Homo sapiens: one gene and its partners. The protein of the gene in region 3 purifies or fractionates together with the protein of the main gene of each other region. This does not show direct contact. Each region holds a gene or a part of one and is shown on either strand. Other genes may lie near its edges. The genes, in order: RPL22, POF1B, ZCCHC17, CSNK2A2, NOS1AP and EIF3A.

Region 1 (2,538 bases), about 25 Mb from region 3:
AGCGCTTTGGGAGGCCAAGGCAGGCAGATCACTTGAGGTCAGGAGTTCGAGACCAGCCTGAACAACATGGTGAAACCCCATCTCTACTAAAAATAAAAAAATTAGCTGGGCGTGGTGGTGCACGCCTGTAATCCCAGCTACTCGGGAGGCTGAGGCATGAGGATCCCTTGAATCCAGGAGGCGGAGGGTGTAGTGAGCTAAGATTGTACCACTGTATTCCAGCCTGGGTGACAGAGCAAGACTGCCTCCAAAAAAAGAAAAAAGAAAAAAAACTAGGCCAGGGGCACTGGCTCACACCTGTAATCCCAGCATTTTGGAGGGCTGAGGCAGGCGGATCATGAGGTCAGGAAACGGAGACCATCCTGGCTAACACGATGCAACCCTATCTCTACTAAAAATACAAAAAATTAGCCAGACGTCGTGCTGGGCGCCTGTAGTCCCAGCTAGTCAGGAGGCTGAGGTAAGAGAATCGCTTGAACCCGGGAGGCAGAGGCTGCAGTGAGCCGAGATGGCGCCATTGCACTCCAGCCTGGGCGACAGAGCAAGACTCCATCTCAAAAAAAAAAAAACAAAAAAAAAAAACAAGAGCAGATAAGTAGATAAGTAGATGTACCAGTTGTCCATGAAAATGCAGCAAACACCTATAACATGGTTTTTAGTGACCACTGGAGAAAGATAACATGATAGAAATTTACAGTTAAGTACGCAACCTCAATACCTTTTATGCAGAAAATAGTGGGTTTCCAAAGAGCTGTAAGCGCTGCGCACACATCACCTCACGGAGTCAAACCCCCTTTTGAGGTTGTCTGGATGATGAGGACTGCTTCTTAGGGGTGTGCACACACTCGCTCCTGCTCACCACCCAACACACAGGGACAGAATGCCACCCTGCCACTGCGCTCACGCCCAGAGAGCACAAAGCCTTTCAGTCAGCCTGCCCAATTGCTGCTTTAGCCAGGTGAGAGCTAAACACTCACCACAACAGGGATCATTTAAAAACTCTTTTATTTATTTTTTTAGACAGAATCTCCTTCTGTGGCCCAGGCTCACTGCAACCTCTGCCTCCAGGATTCAAGCAATTCTCATGCCTCAGTCTCCCATGTAGCTGGGATTACAGGTGTATAACACCATGTCCAGCTAATTTTTGTAATTTCAGTAGAGATGGGGGTTTTGCCATATTGGCCAGTCTGGTCTCGAACTCCTGGCCTCAAGTGTCTGCCCACCTCAGCCTCCCGAAGTGCTGGGATTATAGCTGTGAGCCACTGCGACCAGCCAAAACACTCATTCTTTATGGAAAGGCAAAAACTGGCTTTTGTGCCCAACACCCTAACTACATAAAGATGACCTAAGGGCTGGGCACAGTGGCTCACGCCTGTAATCCCAACACTTTGTGAGGCCAAGGTGAGAGGATCCCTTGAATCTAGGAGTTCGAGACCAGCCTAGGCAACATAGCAAGACCCTGTCTCTACACAACATTTTTTTTTTTAATTAAAAAAAAAAAAGATGAAGTGCACCACAGTCTTGGCAGCTCTCTCACCGGCTTGCTTCCGTGGCCCTGAGGCTATTCCGAATCTTCCCAAGCCATAAAGAGGGAATTTCACAACACACAAACCCACAGCAGAGCCAATTCATCTACCCAAGCTGTTTCTCCCACAGTGAAAGGGGATCCCTGCTACTAACCATCTCTTCAGACCATAGCAAGGATTACATGAGATGCTCAGAGAGATCCCTGGCATTTTTTTTTTTTTTGAGACGGAGTTTCGCTCTTGTTGCCCAGGCTGGAATGGCACGATCTCCGGCTCACCTCAACCTCCGTCTCCCGGGTTCAAGCAATTCTCCTGCCTCAGCCTCCCGAGTAGCTGGGATTACAGGCATGTGCCACCACGCCCAGCTAATTTTGTATTTTTAGTAAGAGACGGGGTTTCTCCATGTTGGTCAGGCTGGTCTGGAACTCCCGACCTCAGGTCATCCACCCGTCTGGGCCTCCCAAAGTGCTGGGATTACAGGCGTGAGCCACCGCGCTCAGCATGGATCCCTGGCATATTCACAGGACCCAAATGTCATGAACCAACAGACTCACCATCTCCAAAAAAGGAGCACTGTGACAGTGCTCCACACCAACAAAGCAATCTCCACACCAACAAAGCAATCTCCACACCAACAAAGCAATCTCCACACCAACAAAGCAATCGCCACAAAGTGTGAAGATCTCAATTCAACTGTCCACTTTTTGCTAAGCAAAGATAAATCAATTTGGTCATTCCATCTAAAAAGTATACTTTTGTCAATTATTTCCACCATATTGTATTCAGATGAGGTTAATTCAAAATTTCAGGTGGTTGAAATGTTCCCTGACATAGCCGGACATGGTGGGGCACTCGTGTAGTCCCAGCTATTTGGGAGGCTGAGGTAGGACTGTTTGAGCCAGGAGATGGAGGCTAGAGTGAGCTATGATCACCCCACTGCTCTCCAGCCTTGGTGACAGAGTAAGACCCTATCTAAAAAAAAGGAAAAAAAAAAATCCCTAATAGTACACTG
Region 2 (3,500 bases), on a different chromosome or scaffold from region 3:
CCACATTGTGTTATATGTTTTTTAAGAAGTAGGTAGGCTCATTTGGGGAAGGTATGCTTTGAAAGAACAGATTTGCCAAGGGACTAATATGTACTTAGAACCAGAATAGCATACTGTATAATTTAGTGGACTTAGTTATTTCAAAAGATATTATTCCACTTCCCTGCTAAATGAAATTAATCATCACCTTTGACTTTCAAGAGGTGAAAATAGCGTGTAATAAAGCATATCTTTTAGTCATCAGGCCTACTGTGAAAAGCAAATACAGACTGTATATATTATATACTAGCTGTTATTTTTTGCTTCAATTGTATTTTATCTCTTTTGTTAAAAAAACATGATTTCATCTTGTAACTGAACTGCACATATAATATCAGAGAAAATCTTCTAATGGCATGACTTGTAAAATCTCTACCCCAACAAATTAGTTTGATATCTAGGAGTTACCTTATCTGAAACATAATGAGTTATGTTCTACAGTGTCTGCAATCAAACTTTAAACAATCAGGTCCCTCTTTCAGTTAGTATGTTGTTATACTGAATACATGAGTGTTATGGAAAAGATTTAGGTCTCATAAATGGGTGAAGAAATTGTCATCTACAGAACTAATTCATTCCATTAGATTTCTTGGGTAGCAGCATGGTTCCAAATTCTGATTGGCCTTTAGTGATGGAAAAATAACAAAGTACTAATGCAGAGACACACACACAAAAAAAAAACGGCTTTGAGTTGTAATACTTTAAAGTGGATCCATTCATGGCTAGAAAAGAAAAAAAAAGGTTATCTTACAACTGGTTCATAATTAAAGTCATTGTTACTATATGCAAAGTTATGGAAAATTATTTAAATTGGTATGTATAAAACCAAAGGACATGTATTGCACTTTTGTGGCACTCTTTTATATATATATATTCAATGAAACAATGATTTGTCTTTCTTACTTTACTCATGGTATGTTTCAAATGACTTTAAGCAAGAGTGAAGGACAATTAAGTAGATTTCCTTCTTAGTAATATTTAGAGTTTAAATATGTCCAATTGTCTCTTAATAAATATGGATTTTCATCTGTGAATGCATTTAAATATATTCTGACCTTGCTATCAGTATCTATAGATTCTTCAAATATCAATTTTGATTTTTACTGCTGCACATTTTTAATGGAGAGAGAAGTAGTGGCTACTATTCTGTAGAAACTTTATTTGGCAGGTCTTCATATTGCCACCTCTGGGATACATGTGGTTAGGGTTAGTGGCAGCAATTGCTTCTCAGTCTTAACTTTGGGCATCAAATTATCTTTGAGTGGCCAATTTTAAATTCTATGGGTTAATAATTAGTAGTAAGTAATTTTCAGCTAACTAATGACCTAACAAAAACAACATTTCAGAGTTTAAATGCAGTTATTTTTACTTTGGGATTACTAAACATTGGTTGTTTTCATTGATGATAACAACCATACTTAAAAGATTGATGGCTGGATTGTAGTTAAAGAAGGGCTTCAGCTCTAAAGAAACTTTTTGAATTTTTTTGTTGACTCAAATATTTGAGCTTGTTCAACCAAAAGATGTTTCTAGAAGTTATTTAACAGATGTTTAGATGTTTAATTTTATTAACTATACATCTGAAGCATAATTTTTAAATATTTTTCAAAAGGTTCTGCAGAATACTGGATTGATATTTGTATATTTGTCTATTGCTCACCACGGTACACTTAAGCATTTTAAGGCTTTTACTGAAGTACAATAAACATGTAGAAAGAAATGGACATATTATAAGTATTCAAATAAATGAATTTTCCCAAACCGAACATGCATATGTAACCATCTCCCAGATAAAGAAACAGAACATTATTAAGACCTTGAATCTCTCCTTATGCTTCCTTTTAATCAGTATCCATCCCACAAGGATAACCATTTCTTCATTTAATAGCCATAGATTTAGTTTTGCCTACTTTTATACCTCAGTAGTTTGACAGGTAGATAATTTTATCATAAGAAGTCAAAGGCTGTCATTTTCACAATGTTTTAAGTCAGATCTGTATGATTTGAGAACTAGAATCCTCAAACATTTCTCTGTTCATTTCACCAGAAGGATATCACACATTCCTATGATCCCTACCAGTGGCTTACTATTAGAATCTCTTGCACCAGTGTAGGAGTATATAATTAGGAAAAAAACCCAAGAGCATTCTGTTAGCAGAGTTTTTCAACCTCAACACTACTTATTAGGGGCTGGATAATTCTTTGTTATGGGAGACTGTCCTGCACATCGTAGTATGTTCAGAAGCATCCTAGTTCTCTAACCACTAGATGCCAATAACACCCACCCCTCTGGTTGTGAAAACCAAAAATGTCTCTAGACATTGCTAAATGTCCCGTAAGGTACAAAATTGTTGCTGTAGAGAGCAACTGTGCTAGGGAATATATAGTTGGCCCTTGGTATTCATGGGTTCCCCACCAATGATGGGTTGAAAATATTCAGGAAAAAAATCATTTCTGTACTGAACATGTACAGACTTTTTTTTTTTTTTACTGTTATTACCTCCTAAACAAGACGGTATGACACGTACTTAGAATTTACATTGAATTAGTTATTGTAAGCTAGAAATGACTTAAAGTATACAGTAAGATGTGCATAGGTTATATGCAAATATTATGCCGATAAGGGACTTGAGCATCTACAGATTTTGATATCTGTAGGGGATCCTGGAACCAATCTCTCATGGATATTGAGGGACAACTATATATCCCCTATTTGATGATCATTACTTTAAAAGTTAATAGAGCAATATGTAAAAGTTTTAGGGAAGTAGCTCTCAGTCCTTTATAAGAAGGTTTCAATAATCAGTCCCCTTAGCAATGGATTGGACCACTTAGAAAGATGCTAAGGTCCATGTCACCTGGCCATTTTGGAGGATGTTGTAGAAGGTAGAGTAAATATTGGAGTATATGATGTTTAAAGTACTCTTCAGCAACCTCACTATAACTGTGGGATTTAAGGCTGGAGGATGTTACAGTCTAGTGAGGAAGCTAGAAACATCTCTTCTTTCTAAATCCTAATATATATAATATATATATATATAAAATCCACAGGAATAAGTACCACATGCAAGATTGCAAGACAAATTCTATTGAAACATGCCTCTTCTCCATTTTCCAGTTGCCTTCATAATTGTCTATGATATTTGCTACCTGCTTTAGAAAAAGGGAAACTGTTTTGGAAAATTTTAATGGAACCCATTCAATAACTACCGAGCTAGGCAAGAAAATAAATAAAATTAGCATATCACTAATGTTAATCTTCTTCCTTTTGAGGGGCAAAAATTATATTTATATTATAGCTTAAATAATCAATTATATTGCCACATGTATGAATCTTTCCAAAATTTGTTAATTCCCACTGTATATCAATAATGGAAACAGAAAATCTCAAAAGAAAAAAATACTCAAAGTTTTTAGTTCATTTGATATTTTACCTCAATTTTAAAAGGCTGTACATATAT
Region 3 (3,500 bases):
CCCCAGACCCTCTTTCTCTTCCTAGCTACTACTTTTGTTTGTTTGTTTTGAGACAGTCTTACTCTGTTGCCCAGGCCGATTGCAGTGGCATGATTATGGCTCACTGTAGCCTCGACCTCCCAGGCTCCAGTGATCCTCCCACCTCAGCCTCTCCAGTAGGTGGGATAACAGGTATGTGCCACCATGCCTGGCTAATTGTTGTATTTTTTATAGAGATAAGGTCTTGCCATGTTGTCCAGGCTGGTCTCAAACTCCTGGCCTCAAGTGATCTTGCTGCCTTGGTCTCCCAAAGTGCTACGATTATAGGCATAAGCCACCATGCCTGGCCCCCAAGCTTCTGCTTTAGCACTTATCACATTGCAGTGTAATTGGTGTTATTTTGTGGGTTAGGTGTTGTTCCTGGAAGTTCCGCCAAAGTCTGTTATTGCAATACATCCCTTTCTGCTTAAGTGGGTTCTGTTGTCTGCAACTGTCCCGGGCTAGGTTAGACATACTGCCAGATAGTTAAATATAAAGACAGAGTTAAAGGGAGTTTAGAGTGTTGTTGGAATGATGATATCTGATATCCCTATCAGATTAGGAGGTCTTTGAGAACAGGGACTGTGTTGAAAAGGGTGGTTTAGGCCGGGTGCTGTGGCTCACTCCTATAATCCCAGCACTTTGGGAGGCCGAGGCAGGTGGATCACCTGAGGTCAGGAGTTCGAGACCATCCTGACCAATATGGTGAAACCCTGTCTCTACTAAAAATATAAAAATCAGCTGGGCATGGTGGTGTGTGCCTGTAATCCCAGCTACTCGGGAGGCTGAGGCAGGAGAATCGCTTGAACCTGGGAGGAGGTTGCAGTGAGCTAAGATCGCGCCATTGCACTCTAGCCTGGGTGACAAGAACAAAACTCTGTCTCAAAAAAAAAAAAAGAAAAAAAAGGGTGGTTTAGTGGCAAGTGTGTGTGGCCCTTGGAATGGCCTAAGATTTGTCTCTTTCTTGCTGTGTTGTTTTGGACAAGTTATTTCATTCCTGTAAAATAGGATTACTTGCTTTGTAGAGGAGTTTTAGGGATTGAAAGCAGGTTTATAAAGTACCTTATATATAAACATCAATCAATAGCATACTGAATTGATGAATTAACAATTTAAATGGGGTAAAATTAAATACTTCACTATTTTAGTAGACAATTTCCATGTGTGTTACACTGTGCTAGGCACTGGAGATTTGGGGAGGAAGGATATGATGATGTGCAAGACAAAGGCATGCTTACAAGAGTTCCACACTCTACAAAGGGAGGAAAAAAATGTCCCTAAAAATGATTTGAATCCCATCCCCATCATTCATATTTTGCAATCTTGAGCGAGTTTACTTAGCTTCTCTTGTGTCCTCATTTTTAAAATGGCAATGATAATTGCCTGTTTTATGGGATAGTCAAGAAGAGAATTATTGAATGTCATGAAGATAAAATTTTAAAAAGAAAAATTAGTTAAGAGAAGTAAAGCTCTTAGATTAATACATGGCAGATATGAAGCACTCAAATATTAGCTATTATAAGACTTTGAAGGGATCTTAGGAATAATTGACTGAAAGTGTAGTGTCGAGTGGTAGAATAAGTGCTGATCCTGGGGTCTTATACCAATGTTGCTAACTGTGAGCAGCCTTTGTCAAATCACTTGGCTTCATTTTCAGTGGCCTAAGAGTAATAGGTTTAATTATTTCCATAATTCCTTTAAGTTTTTACATTTTCTGAGTTCATCTTTTGTGTTTTTCCTGGCATTTTACTATTCCTCTTTCCTGCTTTTGGCTATTTTCTCAACAGGTCCACGACTGGAATTTGAAAGCAAGAAGCATCTATCTTACATGGTCACTCTAGAATTTGGTGGGAGGGAGGAAAGTTGGACCACCAGTTTGACATTTGAAAGTGTCCCGGCCGGGTGCGGTGGTTCACACCTGTAATCCTAACACTTTGGGAGGCCGAGGCGAGCAGATCACTTGAGGTCAGGAGTTTGAGACCAACCTGGCCAACATGGTGAAACCATGTCTCTACTAAAAGTACACAAATTAGCTGGGCATGGTGTTGCATGCCTGTAGTCCCAGCTACTTGGGAGGCAGAGGTGACAGAATCACTTGAACCCGGGAAGTGGAGGTTGCAGTGAGTCGAGATCGCACCACTGCCCTCCAGCCTGGGCAACAGAGCGAGACTCCATCTTAAAAAAAAAGAAAAAAGAAGTGTTCCATCTGTTGATCTGTCCAACATATTAAATGGGACCTAGCTCCTTCTTCTTCTATATCCTTTAGACCAGAATGTGTTCCCCCCTCTTTCTCTACCTGTGCTTGGCATATAGTGAGGCTCAGTTCACTCATTTAAAAAAAACTGAGTACTTGTAGTATACCAGACCCCAGGAACACAAAATCAAATGAGAAATGGTCCTTGGTTTCATGTTTGAATGAATGGATCCAGACGTTGCTCATCCTAGCTCTTCCATGAATGATATCCACATTGATTCCTCTAATGTTGGGACCTAGTTAGTGTTAGAGCTATATTCTACAAAATTTAGATTTAGACCGTGTATTAGCCCATTTTCACACTGCTCTAAAGAACTCCCTGAGACTGGGTAATTATAAAGGAGAAAGGTTTAATTGACTCACAGTTCTGAATTGCTGGGGAGTCCTCAGGAAACTTATAACTCATGGCAGAAGGTGAAGGGGAAGCAAGGCACGTCTTAAGTGGTGTCAGAGGAGAGAGAGAGAGAGCAAGAGAAACTGCCACATTTAAACCATCAGATCTCGTGAAAACTCTGTCACTATCATGAGAACAGACTGTGGGAAACTGCCATGATCCAGTCACCTCCCACTAGGTCCCTCCCCCAACATGTGGGGATTACAGTTCAAGATGAAATTTGGGTGAGGACACAAAGCCAAACCATATTCGATTGTGAATTCTTTTTGAGGTATAGTGCTTAAGAATGCAGGCTCTTGGCCGGGTGCCATGGCTCATGCCTGTAATCTCAGCACTTTGGGAGGCTGAGGTAGGAGGATTGCTTGAGCCAGGAGTTCAAGACCAGACTGGGCAACATAATGAAATCCAGTCTCTACCCCCCCTCAAAAAAAAAAAAAATTAGCCAAGCTCGTTGGTGTGTTTCTGTCCCAGCTACTTGGGAGGCTGAGGCGGGAGGATAGCTTGAGCCCAGGAGGTCAAGGCTGCAGGGAGCCATGTTTGGACCATTGCACTCCGGCCTGGACAACAGAGTGAGACCCTGCCTCAAAACAAAAAACAAAGCAAACAGTGCAGGCTCTGGAGTCATTATTCTGTCTCTGTTCATATCCTAGTAGTTTTAGTTAGCTTACTTTGCTCACAATTCCAGCACAGCTTAAAGATAAACTAAAATTCCTTTAAATTCTTAGGGTTCTAGTCAATTAGTACTCAAGTAACAAAAAAATCTAAATCCAAACAAGCTGGAAAATGATAACAACAAAAATCTTGACCAGGTCAGTAAGGTGACACATTAAATGA
Region 4 (3,500 bases), on a different chromosome or scaffold from region 3:
CCCACCTCGGCCTACCAAAGGGCTGGGATTACAGGCGTGAGGCACCGCGCCTAGCCTATGTTACATGTATTTTAACACAATTTTTTTTTAAAGGCAAGGCATAGAGCAGACCCTTTGAATCTCATTAGGAGAACACTACAACCCTTTCTACTATTGGTTCTGCCTCTAACATCACTCGCATGACCCAAATGTAATATTGTTATTACTACTATACTTTATTGATCTCTCAGGCCAGGCACTGTTTTAAGCACATTTAACCGTCTTAGATGAGCACTATTAACAGTTTTACTTGAGGAAGGACACCAAGGCACAGAGAACTTAAGTAACTGTTTGACGTCACAGAGCGTCTACAGTTGGAGCTAACACCTGAAACCAGGCAGACCACTTCCTAGGCCATACTCTCTCAGGAAAGAAAAGCATTTTGTAGATTACTAAAACATGACAATCAATCTCTCTACCCATCTATCTATAGTTTATCTGACTTTCCTAACAATCCTGTGACTTAAGCAGGAAATGTATGCTTATTTCATAGATGAGAAAACAGTCAAGTGGGTATCAATGAAGAAACTAGTTCTGGAACTCAAGCCTTCTGCCCTCTCATTTACAGCACTTCCTACACTACACCACCCTGATGATGAGATGGTAGATCCTGAAATTAAACTCTAGAAACTATCTGGAGCCCTGCTTTATACATGAAAATGGGCACACTATATCAAGATATTCTTTTCACATGTGGTTTGCTCTCAAATAAACTCATATATTAAAGGGATAAAACTATTAAACTATTAATCCCGAAATCTGCCAAGTGATCATGCTGAGACTTGGAGGAACTCTATGGGTTAAAAAAAAAAAAAACCATAAAAACACTATTTACTGAGGCTTCAAGAGAATAAAGCAGCATTTCATTGAAGCATTAAACATGCTGCTGTGGATACTAATCATAGAGAACGCCTGCCTGGGTCCCTATAGCCCTCGAGGACTCTTGGATTCCACACTTCAACTAGCAACTTACCAAAGTCAAACACTTCCTTTGAGAAAAATAACTCCAAAAATCATTAGAAACGAATTAACTTCATTTGACTCCTGGTGAGTGTTCCTCAATTCTTCCAGTACAGATCAGGACATCACAAAGTCAAACATCCAGCTAATGTCCTAATTATGCTCCTCGCATCTACCAAGACTTCATGACAGGTACACAAGGTCCTACACCGAGTGCTTCCACCCCCTGACTACATGACGCTGAGCATATACATCCTTTCTCTGGGTCTTGGTTGATTTGTAAAAAGGGCCTGGGTTCTAATGGTTTCTAGGTTTCTAAGTGCCCGCATTCTGCGATTCTGTTTGACACAGGTTAACTACACTCTTAATCTGTGACTCCCCAGTACAATGCTGGAAACGGCCTAGTTCACATATAATTTTTAACATTATTTTTAATGTTAGCAATACTTTAGTGATACTGTTTGCACTACTTTTATACCATGAGACATTAGTGAAAATCAGAATGTACCAAAAACTTAGATAAATACCACTAATGTGTTGTTTCAGGAAGATGTCTTCATACACATGCCTAAATTTAGGAGGGTAAAAAACCTACCACAGGAGAAATAAAGAGGAAATAAAGAGGAAAGCACCATTCTGATATAATATAAAGATCACCAGCTCACGATGAAGCTACTAACAAAGATGTATAACCAATGCCCATCCTTTTAACACTACCTACTGACAACACAGAACTTAAAAAATATCTGCAAGTATGCTAAACATGCTTAAAGAGCAAAATTTTAATACCACCACCCTTTGTTTAAAGCTAAATAATTAATATCTAGGGGAAAATGGATAGTCAATCTGTTTATAAAATAAGACCTCTAAGAGGAAGCCTTATATGGGAATTTCCAAGTCATTTTGCACTGGTTCAAAATGCTGTTTTTTAAAAATAGTGTTGCTCTTAACTTTTATTCAAGAAATAGCAGTTTAATTTGAAAGATCCCAAGGACCCCAAGAAGTACTGAAATCTACACACACAGGCAGTATTCATAAAATGCTAAAAGTTGTCAAAGGTGGCCACTTTTACTTCTGTGTACACTTTTCTAAGAGGTACTACAAAGGAAATGAAGAACTGATTTTTCAAAATCAAAAGATGAAACTTTTGGCACTAATGTAGCTTTCTGCCCTGCCATATAAACGCTTACCATTTTCCTCCTCCTTTTTCTCTTTTCTCCTCAAAACAATTTGTCAAAAAAAGATACAACCTCTCTATTGATTGGAAAGTTTTAAGATTTTAGCCACAGAATACCACTTGGGGATAGACAGTAAAATTTTGCTCACCAGTTTCTAAATTCCTAAAACTTTTTAGCAGCTCATTTTTGATCAATACCTGGAAATCCACTAATGCAAATTAAATGATATAAAATTCCTCTGTAGTCACTCATCATCCACCCATTCTCACATATATTGCAAAGAACTGATACGAAACGTTACTGACTACAAAAGTAAGACCACTTGTCCTCAAGAAAGCCACCCTCTATCTTGGTCACTATGTGCATAATACAATCCTGCAGCTAAAATACAGCAGGCTTTTACAAAAAGGAAGGCTGTTCTAGATTCTTCCAAGTTATGAGGAGCTGGTAGTCTGTTAAGGACCTAATTTCCTATGACCAAGCACCACAATAGTAGCTATTAGTCATAACTTCAACTTATTTGAATAAAGAAACACAACTTTGGCTAAAGACCTTGTTACCCTGTTCTTTTTAAAAAGTAATACTTTTAATTCACAAAACAACAAAACCACAATAATGCCATTAGTGATATATTACCCCATCCTTCAGACAGGAACAAAATCTGGATAGAAATGCCACCGGGCTTTAAAAAACATAAAGAAGTGAGTCTAATTTTCACTAGTGGTTTAGGCTGCACTGTGAAAACAAACAACATCAAGAAGAAACAAGAAACATTTCATTAACTAGGGGCCTCCCAAGTCTGATTCCAGGACACTGGTACCTGTTTCTGTGCTCAACGTTCAGATCCTACAATCCAGTGCTAAAATGAACAGTAAGAGATATGAAGAAATAGGAAACAGGAGTTCTGGCTAATGGTCATTCAACATAATGACATTAGGTAAGTTTCTTTGTGCCTAGGTCTCCCATTTGTAAAGATAACCTGCAGCAGCTTACATACTGGGTTTCCTAACATACGCCAAGAATCTTTAAAGTAGGGGGAAAGCTAGAGCCTATAAAGCTCTTTGGATGATGAAGCAGCAATGCGATGCTCTCCTAAATGAACATGCTGGTATTTATACACACACCTGAATGCTGTTCCTTTAAAAAAAAAAAAGCACCACAGAAAATCATACACTTATTCTAAAAATGCTGCCATAGCACAAAAGTTCAGACATTTTTCTGGAATTGCTTTAGAGTCAGCAATTCATTCTTCTGAATATACAGCAGTGGAATATGGATATTCCTAATTTCAATTTACGTTTTGCTTATTTCTTAGATTTGAAG
Region 5 (3,500 bases), about 130 Mb from region 3:
GAAGGCCCCCAGTGACACAGGGCTGTTTCCACTTGTAGAGGATAAACTGGTTCCAAAGGAAACGTCAGGCAGCTAGTTTAGAACTGAACTGCCCTCCAAACCTCCATGTGAGATAAGATATGAATGTTAAAGAGAGAGAGGTGCCCTGATATAAACCGCCTGGGAATCTAAGGGTAGAGCTATTGGTCAGTAATTTTGCTTCTGGGTTTAAAACATTTTTAATTAGCTTTGGCTTCAGGTTGGAATTTGATCTCAAGTTCTTAGTTTCTTAATTGGATCACATTAGGAACCCCCAGATGCCACAGTCATCTCACCTATATGATGTTAGGTTAGAGCTGATGAAGACTAAGGTGGTCTCTCAGTTTCTGACATCCAGTGGGCCAACTTCCAGACTCCAAAGTGCTATCCACAGGAATTACCAACGGTATACCACCGCTACTGCAGGCAGAGCGGGCCCAAACTGACTTTGCTCTACTAGCTAAGTCACAGGGGAGTCTGTGTGTGTGTGTGCCAGAGTGAGCCTTGCAAAATACTGTGCAAAGATGAGATGCTGTTAAGGGAAGAGGGTGCCAGGGAGTAGGAGACCAAATATTGGTGGGATTTGGGGAGGGCGATGTGTGTCAGGAATCAGCTCCACAGCATCCTGGCCTGCAGCAGCATCTAGTGTTCAGACCCTCTGGAAGTCAGACCTTCTGAAAGGCAATGAAGTGCGCTCTGGCACCGCCACTGTGCCATGGAGTGCCTCACTCGGAAGCTGAGCTGGCAGGGGCTAGGAAGTGACTGATGACCTGAGGGCACACGTGTGCAGATCACACAGATGGGCCATCTCTTGCCTACCTTGGAGCCTGTGTGAGAGCCTCCTTCCTTCCCTACAGCATCTAGATCAGTCACACCTCGGCTGAATTCCAGGACATCATTCCCTGGAAGTGGGACCTCCACCGCATCGATGTCAGTCTCCTCTGCAGTGGCCGTGGAGGCCCTCTCGGCTCCAGTGAGCTGGCGGCCTGCAGGAACAACAGGGGAGGGAGGGAAGAGAATGAAAACACCGAGAACAAAGTCCTCCTTTCCTAATACTTTAGCTTTCAGGCATGTTGAGCCTAGGGATGCCACTGGCTTTGTAACATTTTCACACATCTTTTCACTCAAGTACGTTAAAGTGCATTTCCAGCCCAGTAAGATGTTCTCATCTTAGTATCTTTTCAAAGTCCAGAAAAAAAGGCAATACTTCCTCAAGCCTGGATGTAAAAGTTTTGCCAGGTTCACAGGAATATATTGACAAGGTACACTGGAAGAAGGGGATGCTGATCATCTCCATGTCATCGCAGCTCAGGAACGGAAGCAGTCAAGGGAAAGGGCCCTGGCCCGGGGGTCCAGAAATGAGGAGGTTGGGCCTCCAATAAACTGCTGGACAAGAAGCAAATCCCCTCACTCTCTGGGCCATGTTTCTTTAACTACAGAATTAGAAGCTCAGTTAGATGGACAGGTAGGGTTCCATGACTGAGGAATAAGGCAGGGAGATGTGAGGCTGCATTTTAACACAGTATCAATCTCCCAGCCCTCAGAGCCTGATCCTCTCACCAACAGCAGAAGCCAGGAAGACGCCTGCAGGAAGTGGCACGGGGAGGAGGAGAGAGATGGGGTGGCTGCTTTTCCATGCTTCCTTATCTAATTTTTCTACTTCCCACATTTCTTCCTTTCCACTGAAGACAATGGCCATGTCTTTACTTAATATTTAACCACAGGCACAGCATACTGCTTAATACCAATGTATGAAAGCCCTGCTATTTCCTACTTATCTTCCTTCCTTGATCCTATTTCTGGGATTCTGTAAAAACATCTGACAACTCCTGGGCATTTCATAGGAAATATTTTCATTTTCTATATTTGCAATTAGGTTAATTACTGCCGTCTTTAAATAAGATTTCTCATGAGTTTTCAGAGACCACGCACCAATTATAAAATGGAACAGGTGGATGTAAAGCAGGAGACACAGAGCTGATGCCCCAGTGCTGAAGCTAGCCCAGGCAACCAGGCCTTGGCCATTTGAGTGCTTGCCTTGTAGAACAAATTGTTCTAAGAAGTTTTCCTATGCAAACCTACACAAGTCATCAAGGGAAACAAGCCTGGCATTTAGAAAGTAAACAGTGGGCTTGGTTTTCTTCCTGGCTACTCCAGGAGCTGAGGAGACAGTCCTGTGGAGGGCTGCAAAGGCGTTTAACAGAAAAGATGGTTCTGACTGCAGCTAGTGGGGGCAGGGAAGGGGAAGCTCTTCTGCCCCTTGGTCAGCCAGTAGGCGGGGAGCACAGGGAGCAGCCTGCTTTCTACCACAGCCTGCACCTGGAAGTGACCGTCTTGATGGCTGGGTGCTTAGCCTGAGAGATGGAGGGTCGGTAGGTGGGTGGTGCTGGGAACTAAGCGTTTGGTTCTCCATGCCTGTACAGGAAAAAGCAGGGTGAAATTTCTATCAGTGATCAGGAGAAGCTGGGCTACTGCAGTGTTCTGTGCACTTAGCACATGATATTGGATGTGCCTGGCCATCAGTCTTCCCTTACAGACTTGAGGCCAGGCTGTGTCTCATTCATGTTTCCTAAAAATGTTTCTCTGGCACAGAGAAAGTGTTCCATAAATACTGACAAAGTAAGTAATGTAGTGACAGGGTAGCAAAACAGGAGAACAGGCTGCAGGAGAAGGCTGCTTATCTACTTCCCATCCCTGGAGATCCTAATAACAAGAACTAAGAAGCCCCAGACACAGAGGGTTTGGACAGGGCCTCGCCAGAAGCCCAGGTGGAATCAGAAAATTTGTCAGGTTTGGCCGGGCGCGGGGGCAGGGGCAGAGAGGCACAGAGGCAGGAAGTCCACGGCATGTCAGGCAATGCAAGTGGTCCCGTAGGGAGGGACCTGACCAGGACGAGTCAGCATTTTATCTTGAGGGACTGAAAGCAAGTAATACCAAAACATTTTCATCCTTCAAAATTTCACTCTAGATATAGTATGGAGGATAGATCCAGCAGCAATGAGAGAAAGTGATACTCTAGGTGGAAAATATGAGGGCTTGAGTGAAGACAATGGCAATAACATGGAGAAGAGATGGATTCGAAGGATCGTCAGGGGGCAGAAAGCACAGGGTTTGCTTGTCTGTGGTGGGGGCGGGGGTGGGGATATGTGCAGGATGAGTCTTAAAATATCTGATTCAGGTGACTGAATGGAGAATGGCATCCTATAGGAAAAATCCAGGAGAAGCAGGATTGCAGGTAAGAAGATGAGTTCAGTTTTAAACCTGTTGACATTGTAAGAGTCTGTGTAACAGTCAAGTAGGGATACCTATTAGGCTGTTGGGTATGTTATGGACTGAATGTTGGTGTTCATATGTCGAAGCCTTAGCTCCCAATGTAATAGCACTTGGAGATGAGCTTTTGGGAGGTAATTAGATCATGAGAATGCAGTCCTCATGATGGGATTCATGCCCTTATAAGAAGCGATGTAGGAGATCCCTCTCTT
Region 6 (3,500 bases), on a different chromosome or scaffold from region 3:
GCTTTTTTATTTTATATATTTTTAATTGTTCTTGTTGCTGTGTAGGGAGTGGAGACGTGGAGAAGGGCGAGATGAGGACAGGTCTCATAGAAGAGATGAAGAGCGGCCCCGGCGTCTGGGGGATGATGAAGATAGAGAGCCCTCTCTTAGACCAGACGATGATCGGGTTCCCCGGCGTGGCATGGATGATGACAGAGGCCCTAGACGTGGTCCTGAGGAAGATAGGTTCTCTCGTCGTGGGGCAGACGATGACCGGCCTTCCTGGCGTAACACAGATGATGACAGGCCTCCCAGACGAATTGCCGATGAAGACAGGGGAAACTGGCGTCATGCGGATGATGACAGACCACCTAGACGAGGACTGGATGAGGACAGAGGAAGCTGGCGAACAGCTGATGAGGACAGAGGACCAAGACGTGGGATGGATGATGACCGGGGGCCGAGGCGAGGAGGCGCTGATGATGAGCGATCATCCTGGCGTAATGCTGATGATGACCGGGGTCCCAGGCGAGGGTTGGATGATGATCGGGGTCCCAGGCGAGGCATGGATGATGACCGGGGTCCCAGGCGAGGCATGGATGATGACCGGGGTCCCAGGCGAGGCATGGATGATGACCGGGGTCCCAGGCGAGGGTTGGATGATGATCGAGGACCTTGGAGGAACGCCGATGATGACAGAATTCCCAGGCGTGGTGCAGAGGATGACAGGGGCCCTTGGAGAAACATGGATGATGATCGCCTTTCAAGACGTGCTGATGATGATCGGTTTCCCAGACGGGGTGATGACTCAAGACCTGGTCCTTGGAGACCATTAGTCAAGCCAGGTAAAATTCTATTTCCTAGAATATGCTTAAGTGTTCACCTGTAAAAGTGAAATTCTGATGGATAAATATCAGGGCTGTATTGTTATTTTCCAGATAAACTGGTCTTTCATCTTTCCTTCAGTATCATTTGCAGTGACTTCGCTGTCAAAAGTTTGCCTTCAGAATACCACCATCCAAAACATAAATAACCCAACCCCTCTCTTCTTTAGTGATGTGCTCTTTGTTTTCCTTCTGCTTCGATGACTGCTTCTTTGAAGGCTCTTCCTGTACTCATGCTTTCAGTATTGGTGTATTTTTCAGGTTTTACTGGGAACCAGCCTCCTTTTAAAAATAAATAATTGAAACCAAAATGTACTTTATATATTTATTTTTGCCAACTGAGAGATTATGCAAGGAGGAACTCATTTTACTTTACTTTTTTTGAGACAGGGTCTTGCTCTGTTGCACAGGCTGGAATGCAGTGGTGCAGTCATGGCTCACTGCAACCTTGACCTCCCGGACCCTAGGGAGCCTCCCACTTCAGCCTTCTGAGTAGCTAGGACTACAGGCGCATGCCACCACACCCTGCTAATATTTTATTTTTTGGAGAGACGGGGTTTCGCTATGTTGCCCAGGCTGGTCTCAAACTCCTGGGCCCAAGTTATCCTTCTGCCTCTCCCTCCCAAAGTGAAGTGCTGGGATAACGGGTGTGAGGCGCTGCGCCCAGCCTCATTTTTTTTCTTAGTCCTGGGCCTGCTTATTGTTTCACACTTTATTATTCGTGAGCAGTTGTATACATGTTTGTGACATGCGTCTATTACCATTTTTTTTCTTTTTGAGGTGGAGTCTTGCTCTGTCTCCCAGGCTGGAGTGCAGTGGTATGATCTCAGCTCACTGCAACCTCTGCCTCCCAGGTTCAAGCAATTCTCCTGCCTCAGCTTCCCAAGTAGCTGGGACTACAGGCACATGCCACCATGCATGGCTAATTTTTTTTTTTTTTTTTTTTTTTGGAGACGGAGTCTCGCTCTGTCATCTGGCTGGAGTGCAGTGGCGCGATCTCCCCTCACTGCAAGTTCTGCCTCCCAGGTTCATGCCCTTCTCCTGCCTCAGCCTCCTGAGTAGCTGGGACAACAGGTGCCTACCACTATGCCTGGCTAATTTTTTGTATTTTTAGTAGAGATGGGGTTTCACCATGGTAGCCAGGATGGTCTCGATCTCCTGACCTCTTGATCCGCCTGCCTCAGCCTCCCAAAGTGCTGGGATTACAGGCATGAGCCACCACGCCCGGCCATTTTTTTGTATTTTTAATAGAGATGGGGTTTCACCATGTTGGCCAGGCTGCTCTCGAACTCCTGACCTCAAGTGATCCACCCACCTCGGCCTCCCAAAGTGCTAGGATTACAGGCGTGAGCCACTGCCCCGGCCAGTTTTCTCTAGGTAATTTCTGCGTACTGCACACAGGTGACAGCTGCTTACTGCATATAGCACATCTCCACTTGGTAGTCTTACTGAATGTCTAACACAGCCTATCCAAAACTGGACTCATTACCATCACATACACGTGCACTTGTTCACGCCCACCCATCCCTCTGATTCTCTTCAGGGGCATCACTGTCCATCTAACTGTCTGAGCTAGGATTCTGGGAGTTGTTTTGTCTCTGTTTCATCCTTTATGTTAAATCTTTAGTTCAGTTCTGCCTTTTTGATGTTCCTGAAATCCACCCTCCTCTCCATTCCCATTGCTTGTACTTGGTCCTGGGTCAGCATCATTTTCCTCACCCGCTAACTGGTTTTTGCTGCCTCTCTTACTCCCAGTTTTAATTTTGGGTGTCAGGGAAATAACCAGAGCAGTTGTTGTAAGTGCAGATCTAAGTGAGCTGCTTCCTTGCTTTCCCCAGTTGTTTCTGTTGCCTACTTCGTCTCTTCTAGTCTCACTTCATTCTGCTGTTCGGCTGTTACCTTGTGTAAGACATTTAATTTTTCTTTTCCTCATGTTAAATGGGGTAACAGTATAGCAGATTCTTACTAATTTGCTAATTATATTTTATACAGTTGCCATGAATACTGAACTCATGTTCCTAGGGTAAATACAAGGTTAGGTTCTTGTAAGCTTCTAGTCATGATATTTTTGTCAACCAATCAATACATAAAATGTCTTTTATGTGTTTGTGTTTAAAGACTCCCTATTTCTGATATGTTGTTGATTCATTACCATTGAATTCATGGTCAACAGCATTATAACTCATTCATGAACAAAGCTTATCTAATACATGTATTTTCTCCTTAAGGCATATCATAGCCACCTTGTGCTTGGGGCCACTAAACAGCATTTGTTTTTTCTCTTTTTGAGGTGGGGCCTCACTGTCTCCCAGGCTGGAGTGCAGTGGCGTGATCTCAGATCACCGCAACCTCTGCCTCCTGGGCTCAAGAGATCCTACCACATCAGCCTCCTGAGTAGTAGACTATAGGTGCACACCACCAAGCCCAGCTAATTTTTGTATTTTTTTGTAGAGATGTGGTTTTGCCATGTTGCCCAGGCTGGTCTTGAACTCCTGGGCTCCAGGGATCCACCCTCCTCAGCCTCCCAAATTCCTGAGATTACAGGCATGAGCCACCACGCCTGGCCACTAGACAGCATTTTAGCACTACACTTGGAGGCCATTTTAAACAGTGAGGTCACCAGCAAATTTACATCTC

Evidence for each region.
Region 1: the proteins of ZCCHC17 (region 3) and RPL22 purify together in Homo sapiens (affinity purification with mass spectrometry; 2 studies listed by BioGRID and IntAct, with this or other methods). This does not show direct contact.
Region 2: the proteins of ZCCHC17 (region 3) and POF1B purify together in Homo sapiens (affinity purification with mass spectrometry; one large-scale study listed by BioGRID and IntAct). This does not show direct contact.
Region 4: the proteins of ZCCHC17 (region 3) and CSNK2A2 purify together in Homo sapiens (affinity purification with mass spectrometry; 2 studies listed by BioGRID and IntAct, with this or other methods). This does not show direct contact.
Region 5: the proteins of ZCCHC17 (region 3) and NOS1AP purify together in Homo sapiens (affinity purification with mass spectrometry; 2 studies listed by BioGRID and IntAct, with this or other methods). This does not show direct contact.
Region 6: the proteins of ZCCHC17 (region 3) and EIF3A purify together in Homo sapiens (affinity purification with mass spectrometry; one large-scale study listed by BioGRID and IntAct). This does not show direct contact.

The regions. Positions count from the first base shown.
Region 1 is NC_000001.11:6,187,058-6,189,595, forward strand, and holds part of RPL22 (large ribosomal subunit protein eL22), read right to left. Parts: intron 1-2,538.
Region 2 is NC_000023.11:85,278,666-85,282,165, forward strand, and holds part of POF1B (protein POF1B), read right to left. Parts: exon of another isoform or gene 3,450-3,500; intron 762-3,449; coding exon 756-761; 3' UTR 1-755. UniProt on the Homo sapiens protein: Plays a key role in the organization of epithelial monolayers by regulating the actin cytoskeleton. May be involved in ovary development.
Region 3 is NC_000001.11:31,300,032-31,303,531, forward strand, and holds part of ZCCHC17 (zinc finger CCHC domain-containing protein 17), read left to right. Parts: intron 1-3,500.
Region 4 is NC_000016.10:58,191,607-58,195,106, forward strand, and holds part of CSNK2A2 (casein kinase II subunit alpha'), read right to left. Parts: intron 1-3,500.
Region 5 is NC_000001.11:162,352,691-162,356,190, reverse strand, and holds part of NOS1AP (carboxyl-terminal PDZ ligand of neuronal nitric oxide synthase protein), read right to left. Parts: intron 1,005-3,500; coding exon 838-1,004; intron 1-837. UniProt on the Homo sapiens protein: Adapter protein involved in neuronal nitric-oxide (NO) synthesis regulation via its association with nNOS/NOS1. The complex formed with NOS1 and synapsins is necessary for specific NO and synapsin functions at a presynaptic level.
Region 6 is NC_000010.11:119,039,318-119,042,817, reverse strand, and holds part of EIF3A (eukaryotic translation initiation factor 3 subunit A), read left to right. Parts: intron 1-45; coding exon 46-824; intron 825-3,500. UniProt on the Homo sapiens protein: RNA-binding component of the eukaryotic translation initiation factor 3 (eIF-3) complex, which is required for several steps in the initiation of protein synthesis.